Regions from separate parts of the Homo sapiens genome. Here region 2 is linked to region 1. The links come from fine-mapping of genetic effects on gene expression. A gene starts in region 1. The other region holds a variant in brackets. All regions are shown on one strand. Distances are from middle to middle. Region 1 holds the start of TOB1-AS1 (TOB1 antisense RNA 1). Region 2 has its middle 44 kb from the start of TOB1-AS1.

The links.
Region 2: its variant is fine-mapped to the expression of TOB1-AS1 in thyroid (GTEx, PIP 0.98). The same link has a PIP of 0.9 or more in pancreas.

What each region holds. Positions count from the first base shown.
Region 1 is chr17:50,861,167-50,869,718 of GRCh38, reverse strand. It overlaps TOB1-AS1 (TOB1 antisense RNA 1), which reads right to left and starts at 3,040. Exons shown (of 2, transcript NR_038458.1): 1 at 2,502-3,040; 2 at 1,348-2,223. TOB1 (transducer of ERBB2, 1) reads left to right here and starts at 3,365. Exons shown (of 2, transcript NM_005749.4): 1 at 3,365-3,661; 2 at 5,556-7,496. The coding sequence starts at 5,702. The coding sequence ends at 6,739. RefSeq lists silencers at 3,030-3,539, 3,550-4,159 and an enhancer at 4,700-4,749.
Region 2 is chr17:50,906,268-50,914,790 of GRCh38, reverse strand. No RefSeq gene overlaps it. Among named protein-coding and RNA genes, the nearest start is that of TOB1-AS1, 44 kb to the right of the region's middle. RefSeq lists enhancers at 4,140-5,049, 5,050-5,960 and a silencer at 5,229-5,523. The variant C/T (reference allele first, on the strand shown) is at 5,361.

The DNA.
Region 1 (8,552 bases):
TTTTTTTTCTTTTTTGAAACGAAGTTTTGCTCCTGTTGCCTAGGCTGGAGTGCAATGGCGCGATCCCAGCTCACCGCAACCTCCGCCTCCCGGGTTCAAGTGATTCTCCTGCCTCAGCCTCCCGAGTAGCTGGGATTACAGGCATGCGCCACCATGCCAGGCTAATTTTGTATTTTTAGTAGAGACAGGGTTTCTCCATGTTGGTCAAGCTGATCTCGAGCTCCCGACCTCAGATGATCCACCCACCTTGGCCTCCCAAAGTACTGGGATTACAGGCGAGAGCCACCGCGCCCTGACTTGCAATCTGTATTTGAAGAACAGCTGCAGTATATATGTTAGGAACATTGAGTTTTAAGGGCGGAATATTTTATTTATTTATTTTTTTGAGAGAGAGTCTCGCTCTGTCGGCCAGCAGGAGTGCAGTGGCACGATCGCGGCGCACTGCAACCTCCATCTCCCAGGCTCAAGCAATTCTCCTGCCTCAGCCTCCCAAGTAGCTGGGATTACAGGCGTGTGCCACTACACCCGGCTAATTTTTGTATTTTCAGTAGAGACGGGGTTTCACCGTGTTGGCCAGGCTGGTCTCAAATTCCTGAGCTCAGGTAATCTGCCTGCCTCAGCCTCCCAAAGTGCTGGGATTACAGGCGTAAGCCACTGCTCCCAGCCAAGTGTGGAATTTTTTTTTAATTGAAGGAGACATTAGATATGATCTAATTCAACCCTTTTTATAGGTGAGAAAACTAAAAGTTTATTGAAACTGGTGTGAAACTCAGACCTCCCAGTACCCACCCTTCATTGCTTTTTCCAGTATGCCATGGGGCCTCCGTGTGTGTTGTTTGTGTGGTGTGTGTGTGTGTGTTTATATTTGGTCAGACATCTTCTTACACTCCTAGGCCAAGCAGCAATAACTCATAAATTTTTGACATCTACATTTCTGACTTAAAAATGCTTTTAATGCTACTGATATTTAATCAGTACCTATCAGATGACTGCTCTCATATTTCAAATCTGGAATTACAGATTGAAGACATTCAGAAAAGAGAACTTGTCCCTTCTCTTTAGAGAATTATTGAAAAGTACAGATAAGTTTGACAAAATTACAATTCATCTATCTTTAGACATTTTAGTCTCAGCCATGCCTAATATGCCCCCCCAATATAAAATTACTAATCAAGACACATGGTCCCGCAGTTCTAGATGTTTGGTACAGTACCATTATTTGCCTAATGGTAAAAGAAGTTGTGCTTCTAGAACACGTGAAAAATGAAGTGTTTCTTTTGGTAAGGCATTCCAAGGATATCCTGTCTAGTTTCTTGAAATTTCTGTGCTTAATTAGAAAACTAAAAATAACTCACTTTTATTACAGATGGACTTGTCATTACAGAAAACCAAAAACAAACAAATAAAAAAAGAAAACTGAACAAATCATTTATATTTGACGCTTTGATGACATTTCAATGCAGAGGAAGGGACATTTTAATTTAAATGCTTTCACAGTTTTGCCATACTTTCACATTTCAATTCCACTCCTGTTTGCAACTAAAAAACCCAAACACTCAAAAAAAAAAAAAAATCACATTAATCAGAATTTAAGGAGTCACTTAGTAAAACTATGTTTTAGGAATCTGTACAATAAACATGAAATCAGTCACCTGACCACTCCCCACCCTCAGCCCATTCCACAAACCCATCTTCCCACCCCTTCTCCTACGCATTGAGCCTTCAGAAATACCCTTTCTCAGTGCGGTTCCTTCTAAAAAGGAGAGGCGGGAGAGTCAGGGTGGAGAAGGCGGCTCCAACCAGATTTTGCGTCCACAAAGCCAAAAGCTTCTAGGCCTGGCATGTACGGCGGGTTTGTGCCCGAGGAGCACAGCTGGTCTACACGGGCCCGCCCCGTAGACACCCTACTCCTCGGTGAGCTGCGGTTTAACTTCCTTATAGCAGGTTGAGAGTGCAGGCCCCAACGTTTGGAGGGGAAGGCGGCGCCCCAACTGGTGTTTTTCCAGGAAGTGCTCCAAGAATGGAGAGGAGAGGGGAAAGGGGAAAGGGGAAGGCCAGGCGATGGGCGTTTCATTCATTGCTTCTTTCTCCCCGTCCCCTCCTTCGCTCCCCCCAGACTTTCCCCTTTTCCCAGTCCGAGTTTGACGTCGGTCTCCTGGATACCAGGCAGCCAATCGCCTCGTTGCGAAGGGACCAGCGCAGCCAATCAGGCGTCGTTGCTACCTGTGAGTAATATTTTTAGCTGAGAGGGACGCTCGATTCCACTCCCGATGTAATTTCGTGTATTTCTCTGGGGCAGGTTGTGAAAAAGGCACTTACCCGCCCCCCACCACGAGTCCCTCTCTTACCCCACTCCCTAGGTACCCGCACATATTTCAGCCAAGAATGATCTTAAACGCGCTTTACAAGCAGGCACCGCGTTTATTCTGTGCACCTGCGATCCAGCAAGCCCTAGAAATGCACGCATGCGTGTGTGTGTAGACATGGACACAGATACATACGCAGTTTGGCCTCGTGTCGCCACACTCTGGGCACGGCGTGGGCTGGGACATTTGGAATAAACGGATCCGAGTCGCAGCCGGGGTCGCACCGGGAGGCCTGAGGCTGCGGAAGCAGTTAAACTGCCGGCGGGGCGGGAGCTGTGGCGGCCTCCCTTCCCCACCCCCAGCCCGGCTCCACGTCTTTGGGTTCTGCAGCTGCCACTCTCTGGGTGGCGGTTGGCCTAGGCCTTGGGGTGATTAATATTCAATTAATCGGGTGCACAAGTCCCGGTCACAGTTTGCCCTTTCTCTACCCCGCCCCTGGGGTGGGCTGGAGGCCGATTTGGTAGCTATTCCACGAGCAGGATCCTCCTTGGCCGCAGACCCCCGCGGAGAGGGCACTTTCTGGGTACTCTTGCCGCTCCTCCAGCCCCGGTTCTCCTGAGCCGCTTCGCCACCAGCTTCGTCCCCCTCCCCCTCTGCCCGGCGCTCTCCGCCTAAACCGGGCGTCAGCCGCCCTACCCCACCCCTTTCTCTCTCATTGGCACGTCTGCCCCCACAGTCCCTTTCCAGACGTTCTCTTCATTCCGTCCCCAGTGCTCCGATCGTCGGTTCATTGGCCCTCCTGGAGCCCGGAGGGTGCGGCTTCCCCACCCCTGCGTCCGCCGCGCGTCCGGACAGGGGCAGGCGGGACTTGGCCAATGGCGTCGGGGGGCAGGGCAGGGGCGGAGCCGGCCGGCGGGGGACCGGGGTGCCGGGCGGGGAGCGCGGGGAATGGCTGCGCCGCCGGAGCTGTGTGACGCGGAGCGGGCGCGCGCACCCCGACGGAGGGGATGGGGGCGGGGAGGAGGCCATAAAACGAGAGGCGGGGCGCGCGCCGCGGCAGAAGGAGCGAAGCTCTGGCCCGGCGTGTAGCGGGCGCACTACGGGGACGCTGGGCCGGGCACCGGGCTGTGTGGAGAAGTGAGCGCGCTCGTCTGACCCCCGTGCCCGCCACCCCGAGCCACTAACGGCGATCTCCCAAGGCCTGCCCGAGGCCTCTGTCCTCTGTCCTCAGCCCCGCAGCGGCAACGTCTTGCACTCGGCGAGCTCGCCGCTCCCGACCCTCCCGCGCCCCCGCCCTGCCGCGCTGCTCCCCGCCCAGCCGCGGGTCTGTGGTCCAAGCCGCCCCGAAGCAGCCCGTAAGTATCTCGGGGCGCCGGGCGGGGTCGGCGAGGAGACGGGAGCCCCGGGCCCAGGCGGCGGAGGAGGGGCTGCAGCGGCGTCGAGCCCTGGGCCCTCGGGAGCTCGGGGACGGCGGGGTCGCGGCCCTGGGCGCCGAGGGGGCAGCGCCAGGACCCGAGGGGAGCGGCTCCGAGGGGCCGCCGGCGCGTCGGGCTCGTCCTGGGCAGTTGGCCGGGGACGGGCGGCCCGGGGCGAGCTGACGGGAATTGGGGGGTTGGGGTGCCCGGAGGAGCGACGAGCTCGCGGTGGAACGCTGGGGTTCGAGGGGCCGGTGGCCGCGAGGCTGAAAATGGTGCCGAGGAACCGGTGCTCCCCCAGGCTCTGGCCGGCTCCCAGGAGCCCGGGGCGGGGGCCACGGGGCGGGGAGCAGCGGGTCGGGTTACGGCGGGGGAGGGGAGCGGCTGACCCGGCGCCCCGACCTGCTCGGTGCTGGGTGCCCAGCCGGGAGAGGTTGCTCTTCCATTTCCCGGGCCTTCCTCCTCCTTCTCCGAGGAGGCTCGTACTCTCTTCCTCCTCCACCTCCACCTCCTCTTGCTGTTGCTGCTGCTGTAGCGCTTGGGCTCCGAGGGCTGTGAGCAGAAATCTAATGAGATCTAACTGGCTGTTTATGTAATTCTTCACACTCCTGCCTGTCTTAAGGCGTTGCTTTGTAACTACCTTCCACCGAGCCTGAATTTCGCTCGGCTGCACCTTCAAGCAATTGGGCTTAATCAGCTGCCTCTGCCGGCACTCAGGCTTTTGACTTGGAAAGTGTTTGTAGTTTGGGGGCAGCCAGAGATTCTTTTTCCCTTTGTCACCACGAATATGGAAAATAGAACAGACGAATTAAGACCAACTTGATTTTTAAACGTACTTTTAAATCAACTTCAGTGTGCAAATAGATCCCTTTCGCAAATATCTTCTGTTTGCCCTTGATCTTTTCTTATCCCCACCCAGTGCTGATCCAGCAAACGTTTAAAGGTCGACCTTACCATACTTGCCTCTCCGGCTGTTACCGTGAGAGGGAGGGAGGGAGAGAGGGACAGACGGAGGTTTTTTAAAATCAGACTAAAACTCAGAAACCCTGGCCTTAAACAGAATAATCAATAGTTTTAATTTGTGTCTTTGCTTTTGTTATACTTGCTGCCGAATAGGTATTTTCAGATTTAGAAAAATACACATTGAAAACAAAAGGCCCAGAGAAGCTGGATTTTATTATATTGTATGCTCTTAGTATACTTAAGGCCGAAACTATATAGAATAATTTGGTTCATAATTATTTACTAGGATGAAGTTCATTTAGTACTCAGTGTCTTTAATTTTAGCATCATGTACTATGGAAATTAAAATGATCTTCCTAACGTAACCAAATTTTTAAATGTCAGTGACAGAGCAGATTTAAACAGTATATATCCAAAGTAAACTAAAACATGGATTCACTTCTAAGTTGGTGAATAACAATAAAAATTACTACCTAAAAGTGGCATCTATATATATGGGGGTGGGGGGAGGATGCTGAGTACAATAAATATTCTTGTGAGAACTGAGGAGAGAAGAATGCATGTTCTAGAGATTTTTCTTCTTAGAACTCTATTCAGAAACAGGTTTTTAAAAGCATTATTTCATTTGTAAATCTACATTTTCCTGTGTCATTTTAAACTTTAATAAACGATTTTCTATTTTATGTTTATTTTGTGCTAGTAACAGTTTTCAGGCTTTCTGTCCTAGTAGACATTTTCTTTTTCTTTTTATCCTTAGCAGACTAACACAGGATCTTAGACATTTTGAAAGGTGAAATTACTTTGGAGGGGGGAAGGTCATGGGACTTATATTACATTTATCTTATTTGGATATGTTTGCTTTTGTTTTAAGGAACAAGATCACTCAAGGTGAAGGATAATCTACTAATACCAGCACTTTGAATGAAAATTTGTTTCTCTGCCACAAACTGAACATCTTTTTTTTTTTTTTTTTTTTTTGGTGGGGGAGTTGAAACCTAATTTTGTGGCGTAGCAGCTATGCAGCTTGAAATCCAAGTAGCACTAAATTTTATTATTTCGTATTTGTACAATAAGCTTCCCAGGAGACGTGTCAACATTTTTGGTGAAGAACTTGAAAGACTTCTTAAGAAGAAATATGAAGGGCACTGGTATCCTGAAAAGCCATACAAAGGATCGGGGTTTAGATGTATACACATAGGGGAGAAAGTGGACCCAGTGATTGAACAAGCATCCAAAGAGAGTGGTTTGGACATTGATGATGTTCGTGGCAATCTGCCACAGGATCTTAGTGTTTGGATCGACCCATTTGAGGTTTCTTACCAAATTGGTGAAAAGGGACCAGTGAAGGTGCTTTACGTGGATGATAATAATGAAAATGGATGTGAGTTGGATAAGGAGATCAAAAACAGCTTTAACCCAGAGGCCCAGGTTTTTATGCCCATAAGTGACCCAGCCTCATCAGTGTCCAGCTCTCCATCGCCTCCTTTTGGTCACTCTGCTGCTGTAAGCCCTACCTTCATGCCCCGGTCCACTCAGCCTTTAACCTTTACCACTGCCACTTTTGCTGCCACCAAGTTCGGCTCTACCAAAATGAAGAATAGTGGCCGTAGCAACAAGGTTGCACGTACTTCTCCCATCAACCTCGGCTTGAATGTGAATGACCTCTTGAAGCAGAAAGCCATCTCTTCCTCAATGCACTCTCTGTATGGGCTTGGCTTGGGTAGCCAGCAGCAGCCACAGCAACAGCAGCAGCCAGCCCAGCCGCCACCGCCACCACCACCACCACAGCAGCAACAACAGCAGAAAACCTCTGCTCTTTCTCCTAATGCCAAGGAATTTATTTTTCCTAATATGCAGGGTCAAGGTAGTAGTACCAATGGAATGTTCCCAGGTGACAGCCCCCTTAACCTCAGTCCTCTCCAGTACAGTAATGCCTTTGATGTGTTTGCAGCCTATGGAGGCCTCAATGAGAAATCTTTTGTAGATGGCTTGAATTTTAGCTTAAATAACATGCAGTATTCTAACCAGCAATTCCAGCCTGTTATGGCTAACTAAAAAAAAGAAAATGTATCGTACAAGTTAAAATGCACGGGCCCAAGGGGGATTTTTTTTTTCACCTCCTTGAGAATTTTTTTTTTTAAGCTTATAGTAAGGATACATTCAAGCTTGGTTAAAAAAATAATAATAAAACATGCATCATTTTTCATTTGCCAACCAAGCACAAAGTTATTTTATACTGACTGTATATTTTAAAGTATACTCTCAGATATGGCCTCTTACAGTATTTAAGATATAGCAAGGACATGGCTGATTTTTTTTTATAAAAATTGGCACTAATAAGTGGGTTTATTGGTCTTTTCTAATTGTATAATTTAATTTAGTACAAAGTTTGTAAAATATCAGAGGATATATATATATTGTTTCTACGACATGGTATTGCATTTATATCTTTTTACTACAGTGATCTGTGACAGCAGCAGCTTCATGTTGTATTTTTTTTACTGAAATTGTAAAATATCCATCTTAAAGACATCAACTATTCTAAAAATTGTGTACAGGATATTCCTTTAGTGGTGGAATTAAAATGTACGAATACTTGCTTTTTCAAAAAAATGTATTTTCTGTTAAAAGTTTAAAGATTTTTGCTATATATTATGGAAGAAAAATGTAATCGTAAATATTAATTTTGTACCTATATTGTGCAATACTTGAAAAAAACGGTATAAAAGTATTTTGAGTCAGTGTCTTACATGTTAAGAGGGACTGAAATAGTTTATATTAAGTTTGTATTAAAATTCTTTAAAATTAAAAATGCCTATTGTCTTTGTTTTTAAGTGTTTTCTGAAGATCGACCTCTGGAGTTATTATGTTGTAAATGCTAATGATGGAAAAAGGCCTGACTCATTGAGTCACGAAGGAATAATGGAAAGCAGTTGCTCTACTGATGTACCAGATCGTGGTTTGCCACATAAAAAATGCTATCAAAACTATAGCCTGACCAGTGCTTGGTACAACTTTATTTTTTAACAGCCCTCTTCAGTCCACATTTGTCTACCCCATTATAGAGATGGTATGGTAAGGTTAGCTATACAGCAAGTTTCAAAATGTCATGCTGACATGGAGGAGTCAGGTGATAAGATGAAATTCCTTCGTGTAATCTGAGATGATTTATTTGAAATTTATATGGAGAGAGCATTGGATCAGTTTTCTGTTTTTGCTGAGGAAACTTGCTTGGACAAAACGGCTGACTGAACTTAGAAAAATTTACATCACTTTACTAATCTTTAAAGTTTAGCTATTGCATATAGCTAGAGAACTTATGGTCAAAATCTATTCACGGCTGGACAGATGGTTAGATGTTAGCATTTTCATTTTCCCAGCAAAAACGCTTATGTATTTAATTTTTTGCAAGTGGGTACCCAACCTGCTGGTTTGAAGGATTTAGAGATATTGACAATGTATCAAATTGGAGTGGCTTGGTGAGGATGGAGTTTTTTAAAACTGAAGAGTTGGGGAGAAGAACACTAAATGAGTCATTTCACTAAATGTCAATTGATACAGTATTGACATAGTATTGGTGAGAAAGTTAACGTCCATTTGATACAGTGTTGACATAGTATTGGTGAGAAAGCTGTCTTAAAAAACTTTATATGTACTTTTATAGTAAGAAACCAGCACTGCCTGGGTTACCAGTGAAATAAATTTGGTCTCATGAGCTTTTTGGACACCAGTCTACAAAAGCCTTTTGTCATTTACCCATGCAGTGTAGAGCAATACAAAGTTTTAAGGAAACAAGCACTGGAAATAACAGAGCTAAGCTGTTTGTCAGCTCCATGGTGAGGCTTTTGTTCTTTAGGGAACAGAACGA
Region 2 (8,523 bases), 45 kb before region 1:
TAAATGCTCAGCTGCTGTCTGCTTCCTCAGAACTCCTGACCCTTGGTCAATTGAGCGCCTACATTCCTGAACTACCAGAGCAGGGAGATGGTCGGGGCGGTGGGGGGTCTTAGGGATTACCAAGTGTGTTGTGGGGAGGGAAAGTTACATTTTACTTGACCGTTTAAAAATATTCTATGCCTGGCTGGATGCGGTGGCTCACGCCTCTAATCCCAGCACTTTGGGAGGCCGAGGTGGGCTGATCACAAGGTCAGGAGTTCGAGACCAGCCTGACCAACATGGTGAAACCTCATCTCTACTAAAAATATAAAAATCAGCCGGGCTTGGTGGCACGTGCCTGTAGTCCCAGCTACTTGGGTGGCCGAGGCAGAAGAATCACTCGAAGCTGGGAGGTGGAGGTTGCAGTGAGCCAAGATTGCGCCAGTGCACTCCAGCCTGGGAGACAGAGCGAGACTCCGTCTAAAATAAATAAATAAATAAATAAATAAATAAATTCTATGCCTAAGGTGAGACCAGATTATATTTATTTGTCCTTCTTAAAGTTTCAAATTAAAGTTGTAAAATATTTCAAATATACAGAAAAGTACAGAGTAATATCTCAGCCACAAACCCACCACTAAATTTGGACACATGTAAATATTTCACTCTATTCTCTTTAGGTCTCTTTCAATCAAAAATTAAATTTTGGCAATAGAACGGAAGTGACATCCCTAGCCCATCCTTCTTCCTCCCTCATCAGAGGAGACCACTAACTTGAAACCAGCACATTTCCTATGCATGTTTTCATACTTTTACTATGTACACGGGCCCATAAGCAACCTACGGTGTCATTTGCAGGTTTAGAAAATTAGGTGTGAGGCCGGGACGGTGGCTCATGCCTGTAATCCCAGCACTTTGGGAGGCAGAGGCGGGTGGATCACCTGAGGTCAGGAGTTTGAGACCAGCCTGGCCAACATGGCAAAACCCTGTCTCTACTAAAACAAAAATTAGCCAGCATGATGGCAGGCGCCTGTAGTCCCAGCTATTCAGGAGGCTGAGGCAGGAGAATCGCTTGAACTGGGAGAGGGGCAGAGGTTGCAGTGAGCTGAGACTGCATTCCAGCCTGAGCGACACAGCAAGAGTCTGTCTCAAAAAAAAAAAAAAAAAAAAAAAAAAGGAAAAGAAAAGAAAGAAAGAAAGAAAGAAAAAAAAAAAAGAAAATTAGGTCTGAAAATGTGAGTTGCAGACTGATAGTGCCAGGTTTTCACCCTCTGTGCTCCAGGGCCTGGCCACTGAGTGATCTCCAGGCTGGGAGCTGGAGGCAGCAGCTCACAGTGCCTTGAGCAGCTCCACTCTCCTGTGATTTATACATGGGGGGTTCGGCATGAGATTGCCTTGGAAAAACAGGTTCCACAGTTTGAAAGTCACAAATCTAATGAAAATTCATCTGACAGAGAATGAGGCCAGTGCCCAGAGAGGGGAGGTAACTTGCTCCAGGTCACACAGCAGGCTGAGTGGCAGAGCCTTCTGATGCCCAGTCCAGGAGTCTTGCCTTCCCCACTGTCCAATAAGGAAACATAAATGGGCACCCCGACCCAAAGGATGATTTGCTCCTGGGTCAGGGAAAGGCAAAGGGGTCTGGACAGGGGCCTCTGAGGAGGCCTCTGACCTCCCCTGTGGGGAGTGGAGGGCACAAGGAAAGTGCCAGACCTGCACTCTCCAATATGGTAGCCATGGCCATGTGCCCATGGGCACTGGAACAGTTAGTCCACACTGAGATGTGCCACAAGAGTAAACTACATACCAACCAGATCTTGAAAATTTAGTATGAAAAAAGAATATAAAAGATCTCTTTACTTTTTAAATGGTTTATGTGTTGAAATTATAATATTCTAGACATATTGGGTTAAGCAAAATATATTCAAAAAATTAATTTTACCTGTTTCCTTGTTTTAAATGTGGCTATTAGAAAATACTATATTCTGGCTGGGTGCAGTGGCTCATGCCTATAATCCCAGCACTTTGGGAGGCCAAGGCAGGTGGATCACCTGAGGTCAGGAGTTTGAGACCAGCCTGGCCAACATGGTGAAACTCCGTCTCTACTAAAAATACAAAAATTAGCCAGGCATGGTGGTGCACGCCTGTAATCCCAGCTACTTGGGAGGCTGAGGCATGAGAATTGCTTGAACCCAGGAGGTAGAGGTTGCAGCAAGCAGTAAGCCGAGATCACGCCACTGCACTCCAGCCTGGGTGACAGAGCGAGACTCCATCTCAAAAAAAAAGAAAAAAGAAAATATTATATTCTATGTGTGGCTCGGGTTATATTTCTATTAGACCATGCTGCCCCAGATCTGATGCCCAGTGGCTGAGGCAAAGTAGCTAGACCACAGAGACAGGGACTAGAGGAGGACAGTACACAGGAGCCTTGAGCTGGAGGTGAGGGGTCTGTTTCCACAGGCCACATGTGGAGACTACATTTTGATCAGGAGCAGATAGAACAAATAAATGCCCTCCCCTTCCTACCTCCTAGGTCAGGGGCTTTTCTCTCTGGTCCTCCAGGATCCAAGCTTGCCCTTGTCTCTCTCCCAGAGAGCTAAGTGTGAATCAGAGCAGGCCCTCTCTGCTTGGTACTTGTACCTGCAGACCATCGGTCTGCACAGCCCTGGGGAAGGACAGTGCGGACACCCTTTCCCAGACAAGCTTTCCTTTTCTGCATGACAACAGGGGTTTCTGTTGCCCCCTTCCCTCCCCTTCCCTTCTGGTGGAGTTGAGCACTGCAGCTGGGCTCTTCCTGAGCCTCTACATCACTTGATCTCAGGGAAAGGGTCACCCTTGGGTTCAGTGTGGGTGCAGGGGCTCTCCCACAGTGCAGCAGACACATACTCCAGCTCCTGGGGATGACCGGGGGCCACGGAATGGCCCGAGCCTCAGGATACAATGATTCTGGTCTGGCATTGTGGGAGATGCCCAGCCAAATGCTGGGGAACCAACCCCTCCCCACCGAGCTTCTGCCTTCTCTTGTACCACTGACCCGGTCTGCGATTCCAGCCAATTATTCTGTCTTCTCCAGAGTTGGCAAAGTGTGACACTTCCCTATTAGAAATCTTCAGCGATTTCCCTGTGCAGCTGGGAGCTGTCCACAGGCAGCTTCTCCCTGTTAAGGTAGGGGTGAGGAGGAGGGGACAGGGGTCTGCACCACCTACCAGAAAATGAGAAAAACATCAGGTGCTTAAGTGCATATGACAGATAACAAACTTTTCTCCTCATGGAGGAAACAGAATCCAGGATATAACAACTTTAGAGTTTTCAATATATCGGGGCCAGGGGGAGGGGGAGGGAATAAAAACAGTATCTTCCGCTTCCAGACATTAAAAAATTATATATGTCACAAAAGTAATACAAATGCACACAGTAAAATATTCGAATAAGACTTTTTTTTTTTGAGACAGAGTTTTGCTCTGTTGGCTAAGCTGGAGTGCAGTGGCATGATCTTGGCTCACTGCAACCTCCACCTTCTGGGTTCAAGTGATTCTCCTGGCTCAGCCTCCTGAGTAGCTGGGATTACAGGTGCTGCCACCATGACTGGCTAATTTTTGTATTTTTAGTAGAGACAGGGTTTCACCATTTTGGCCAGGCTGGTCTCGAACTCCTGGCCTCATGTGATGCACCTGTCTCGGCCTCCCAAAGTACAGGGATTACAGGCATGAGCCACAGCGCCCGGCCCAAGCCCAAGCCCAGCCCCCAAAGTCTTGAAAATATGGATACATAATTCATCTTTCATCACTGGCCTTAGCAAATCCAAAGGTGGAAGCTAATAGGAAGCTCTGAGCCCTTCCCTCCACCCTGGGTGCTTTGGGACTCCAGATAACTAAATTTCTAAAAAACAACTTACCCAGAAACGTGCCCTCTAATTTAGAAAAAGTTGCCAACAGAGGACTATGCTCCAGAAACCACAAACTATGAAGAATGAGCATAATACGTGTTGTGAGTTCACTGTTTTAATCAAATAAAACCTGCAACAAAGTTAATCTGACACATAGTTAATGAGATAATCATTGTTGCGCTTTGTGGGAATTAGACATTAATGGGAGGCAGTTTTTATAAATGATGGTAATTATATTGTTGCCTTTGCTCAGCCAAAATGTAAAAGTTTTTTCTTCTCGTTTCGTTACTTCCCTTGAATGTGCCATCCATGTACCATCTAGATGATGAAGTTTCCTGTGGGTTTCTGTGTCATTTCTTCACCATCGCAGCCCCACCCTGCCCCCACCCAGACCACAGGCAGACAACAAAATTTCTTGAGCACCTACCCTGCGTCACTATGCAAAGCACTTGGCTTGGAAGATCTCATTTAATCCTCACAAGAATCTCCAGAAATAAGTATTTTTAGCACATAGGTGACAAAAGAGAAAACTGAGGTTTAGGCTGGTCACGCTGCCCACAATGACAGACCCAGGCATGAGCCAACCCAGGCAGTCTGACTGCACCTCTGGAGCAGAACCACTGTGCTGGGCAGCCCCCTTGCCTTGACCCCAGCTGGCCTCTGTGCCCAGTCCCTGTGCTCCCCTCGCCCTCTGGGACGCCACGGGGCCAGGCAGTTGAGGGCAGCTAGGGTGTCAGACTTGCCCAGAGGGACGTGGGCTGCAGCAAGTGGAAAGAGAATCATAGCAGCCACTGGCTTTGCAGCCACACGGACCAAAGTTCAAATCCCAGTAACTCACGCTCTGGCAGTGTGATCTTGAGTATCACGAACACCTCTGAGCCTCGGTGTCCTCATGAAATGGGGAGAAGAGTTGAGGTTCTCGTAGTGATCAGCGAGCTGATGTCTGTGCAGGCCTAGCACAGGGACTGGCACACAGGTGGGGGTGAGCCCCGAGACCCCAGACCCCTTCCCTGGAGGGCACAGGAGTGGTGGAAGGGACAGGAGGTTTTCCAGCCCCAGTATCCAGGAGCCTTGGCACAGGGACTCTGATCAGGGGAGGGAAAGCAGTGAGAGAGCATAGCTTCCCAGAGAGCTCTGAAGGGGTCGGGGGACCAAAGGGGAAAGAAAATCACAAGCTCTCTTTGGGACTACCTGTAGGGTGAGCCAGGTTTCATGAGCAAGGAAAACCTCCACTTCATTTCCAGTCTCTCCATAAAGCCTGATGTTCCTCCTTTTGTGTTCCTCTGGGTTATAACAGGGTTAAACCCTATATTCCAGCCCGCAGCACAGGAAGGGGTCAGCCAGCAGGAGGTAACCCCTGGTGGAAAGGGAACAGAGAAGCTGCAAACACTGTCCAAAACAAACTTCTGCCACCTTACCACGTTGCCCTGGGCCTGCCCTATTTGCCGTCACCAGCAGAGGACAAAGAAAGGTTATGTGCAAAGGTACTTTGTGTTCC[C/T]GCGGCAGGGGGCCAGCGGGGAACTCTCGTCACCTGGTTGTGCTAGGGATTCCAGGGCATGCTCTAAACCACAGAGGAGGGCGGCCTCTGAATGGGGCCACGACAAAACAGGCCTGGGTGAAGCTGCTATTCGTCTGCTATGAGACCTGGAGGGGACTCAGTCCTCCAGCCTTGGATCACAGGACTCCCCAAGGCTACAAGGGCCATTGGGGGTGTCAGAGTCCTGGGACCCTGACCAGCTTCCCAGCCAGCCTCCAGGAGCGCCGTCATCCCTGCTGCAGAGAGAACACAGAGATTAAGAGTTATAGGCTTGGCTGGGCCAGATGCTATGGCTCACACATGTAATCCCAGTACTTTGGGAGGCAGAGGCAGGCAGATCACCTGAGGTCAGGAGTTTGAGACCAGCCTGGCCAACATGGTGAAGCTCCGTCTCTACTAAAATTATAAAAATTAGCCGGGCATGGTGGCACATACCTGTAGTCCAGCTGCTTGGGAAGCTGAGGCAGGAGAATCGCTTGAACTCAGGAGGCGGAGGTTGAAGTGAACAGAGATCATGCCACTGCACTCCAGCCTGGGCAACACAGCAAGACTCCGTCTTTAAAACAAAAACAAAAACAAAGAGTCACAGGCTTTAGAATCAGCCGCACTTGGGGTCAAGTTTCAACTCTGCCTCCTTCCAGCAGTGGGACCCAGGGCAAGCAATCAATTTCCTTTGAGCCTGAGTTTCCTCATCTGTGAAATGGGGCTAATCGTTGGGACTGTTTTGAAGACGCATGTCTTCTGACTCGTACACTGAGCACAGTGGCTGACTCAACTGTCAATGCCAGACATGCATAATGACAATATAAATGTAATGATAATTCCTTCCAGAAATACCTGTCGAGCACCTGTGACAGGCCAGGCACTGTGCAGGGTGCTCTTGAAGATATGAAGGTGAGTAAGACAAGTCCCACCCTGTCTGGAGGACATGCCCAAGAATGATTCTAACCAAACCTGAGAATGCTGAGTGATGGGAGGGAAGGCATGCAGAGGAGGTCAGCATAGGCATTCAGGGAAGCCTTCCTGGAGGAGGCAGCACTTGAGCTGGGCCTGGGCGGGTGGCTAGGACTGTGGATGTGGGGAGGAGAGGAAGGACATGCCTACATGAGGAAGGAAGTAGAGTGAAAGAGCTGTTCAAGTTTAGGGCACACAGAAGCTCCATGTGGCTGGAGTACAGTGCCCAGTGAGGACATGGGGGGTGGACAGCATGCCAGGTGGGACAGAGCGTCACTGTCCCCCAAATACACCATCTCCCTCTGCCTTGCTGGGTGACCTTGAGCTGGGTACTCTGTGTCTCTGAGTCTCATATCTCTCATTTGTGAAATTAAAGGTCTGGAGTGATTAGTGGTTCACCACCTTTCCCCCAAGAACTTTAGTTACTCCCTGTTTTTCTCCCCATTGTCTCGCATACATGTTGTGTCCTTGCATGAAGTCACTGAAGGTTTTGATCAAGGCTACGGATGATCAATCACAGGTGATGTGAAAAAGCCCCCTGGCTCCAGTGTGGTGATGGGTGGGAAGATGGGAGGCCCCCACCATGAGCCATGAGGGCCCTGGTGAGGACTGGGCTGAGGGAGGTGAAGGAGAAAACACCATTAGGAACTGGAGCTCTGGCCTAGAAGTCCTGACAGGGGCTGAGGGGAGTTAAGGGTCAGAAGGCAGAGCCTGGGTGATTGACGGTCAGATGTATAGGTTGGGGTTTCAGCCAGAGGGGCATCCCTCCCATCCCCAGAGGGAGAACAATGGGTTGGTTTAAACAAATTGAATTTGAGGCACCTCTAAGACATCATGGTAGACTGTCCAGTAGGGAATGGATTTTTTTTTCTTTTTTGAGACAGAGTCTCGCCCCAGGTTAGAGTGCAGTGGTGCAATCTCGGCTCACTGCAACCTCCGCCTCCCGGGTTCAAGTGATTCTCCTGCCTCAGCCTCCTGACTAACTGGGACTACAGGCGCATGCCACCATGCCCAGCTAATTTTTTTGTATTTTGTTTTTGTTTTTTAGTAGAGTTTTTTTTTTTTTTTTTTTTTTTAGTAGAGACAGGGTTTCACCACGTTGGCCAGGATGGTCTTGATCTCTTGACCTCATGGTCCACCCGCCTCAGCCTCCCAAAGCGCAGGGATAACAGGCGTGAGCCACTGTGCCCAGCCTTTTTTTTTTTTTTTTTGTTTTTTGAGACAGAGTCTCACTCTGTTGCCCAGGCTGGAGTGCAGTGGCGCAATCTTGGCTCACTGCAGCCTCTGCCTCCCAGGTTCCAGCTATTCTCCTGCCTCAGCCTCCCCAGTAGCTGGGATTACAGGTGCCTGCCACCATGCCTGGCTAATTTTTGTATTTTTAGTAGAGACGGGGTTTCACCATGTTGACCAGGCTGGTCTCAAACTCCTGGCCTCAGGTGATCCTCCTGCCTCGGCCTCCCAAAGTGCTGGGATTGCAGGTGTGAGCCACTGTGCCCCCCTGAACTCTTAACCAGTCTTTCTCATCCCTTGGAGAAATCCTAAAGTGCTCACAGAGGTGGTCCCTTCCCATTTCCACTGGCAGTAGCTCTGAATTCTGGTGTTCATTGTGGGCTGGGCGGGCAGAGGCAGAAGGGTTTGTGATGGGAGCAGGGTTTTCTGCCCCGGTCCTGCTGGCCCTTCTCTATTCTGTACTGGTCTTTGATGGGGGCCAGGCATTGGTAGGTGGGACTGATGATGGGCCTAATGATTGACTAGTGTATTCGCCAATGGAACACACGTGGGCCTCCTAACCCAGCAATACAAGGGGTCTGGAAGATCACCTGTTCCTGGCTCCCCACACCCCACCCCAGATCAGAAAAGAGCAGGGAGAAAGAGACCTGTTGCTGTTTTTTATCTTTATAAAATCCTAACAGAAAATAGAATATTTATCTGTGAGAAGGGTACACTGGCTTAACTAAAATGTCAAGTTTCATTGCTGGAATTATGAGGGACATGATAAATGTACATTTATTCAGTAATTACTCATTCAGGATTCTGTTTTGTATGAAACAAAACCAGGACATGCTGCTCAGAAGCTCTGATTAGTTTTGCTTCATACAAAATCAGCTCCTGGCCGGGCATGGTGGCTCATGCCTGTAATCCCAGCACTTTGGGAGGCCGAGGTAGGCAG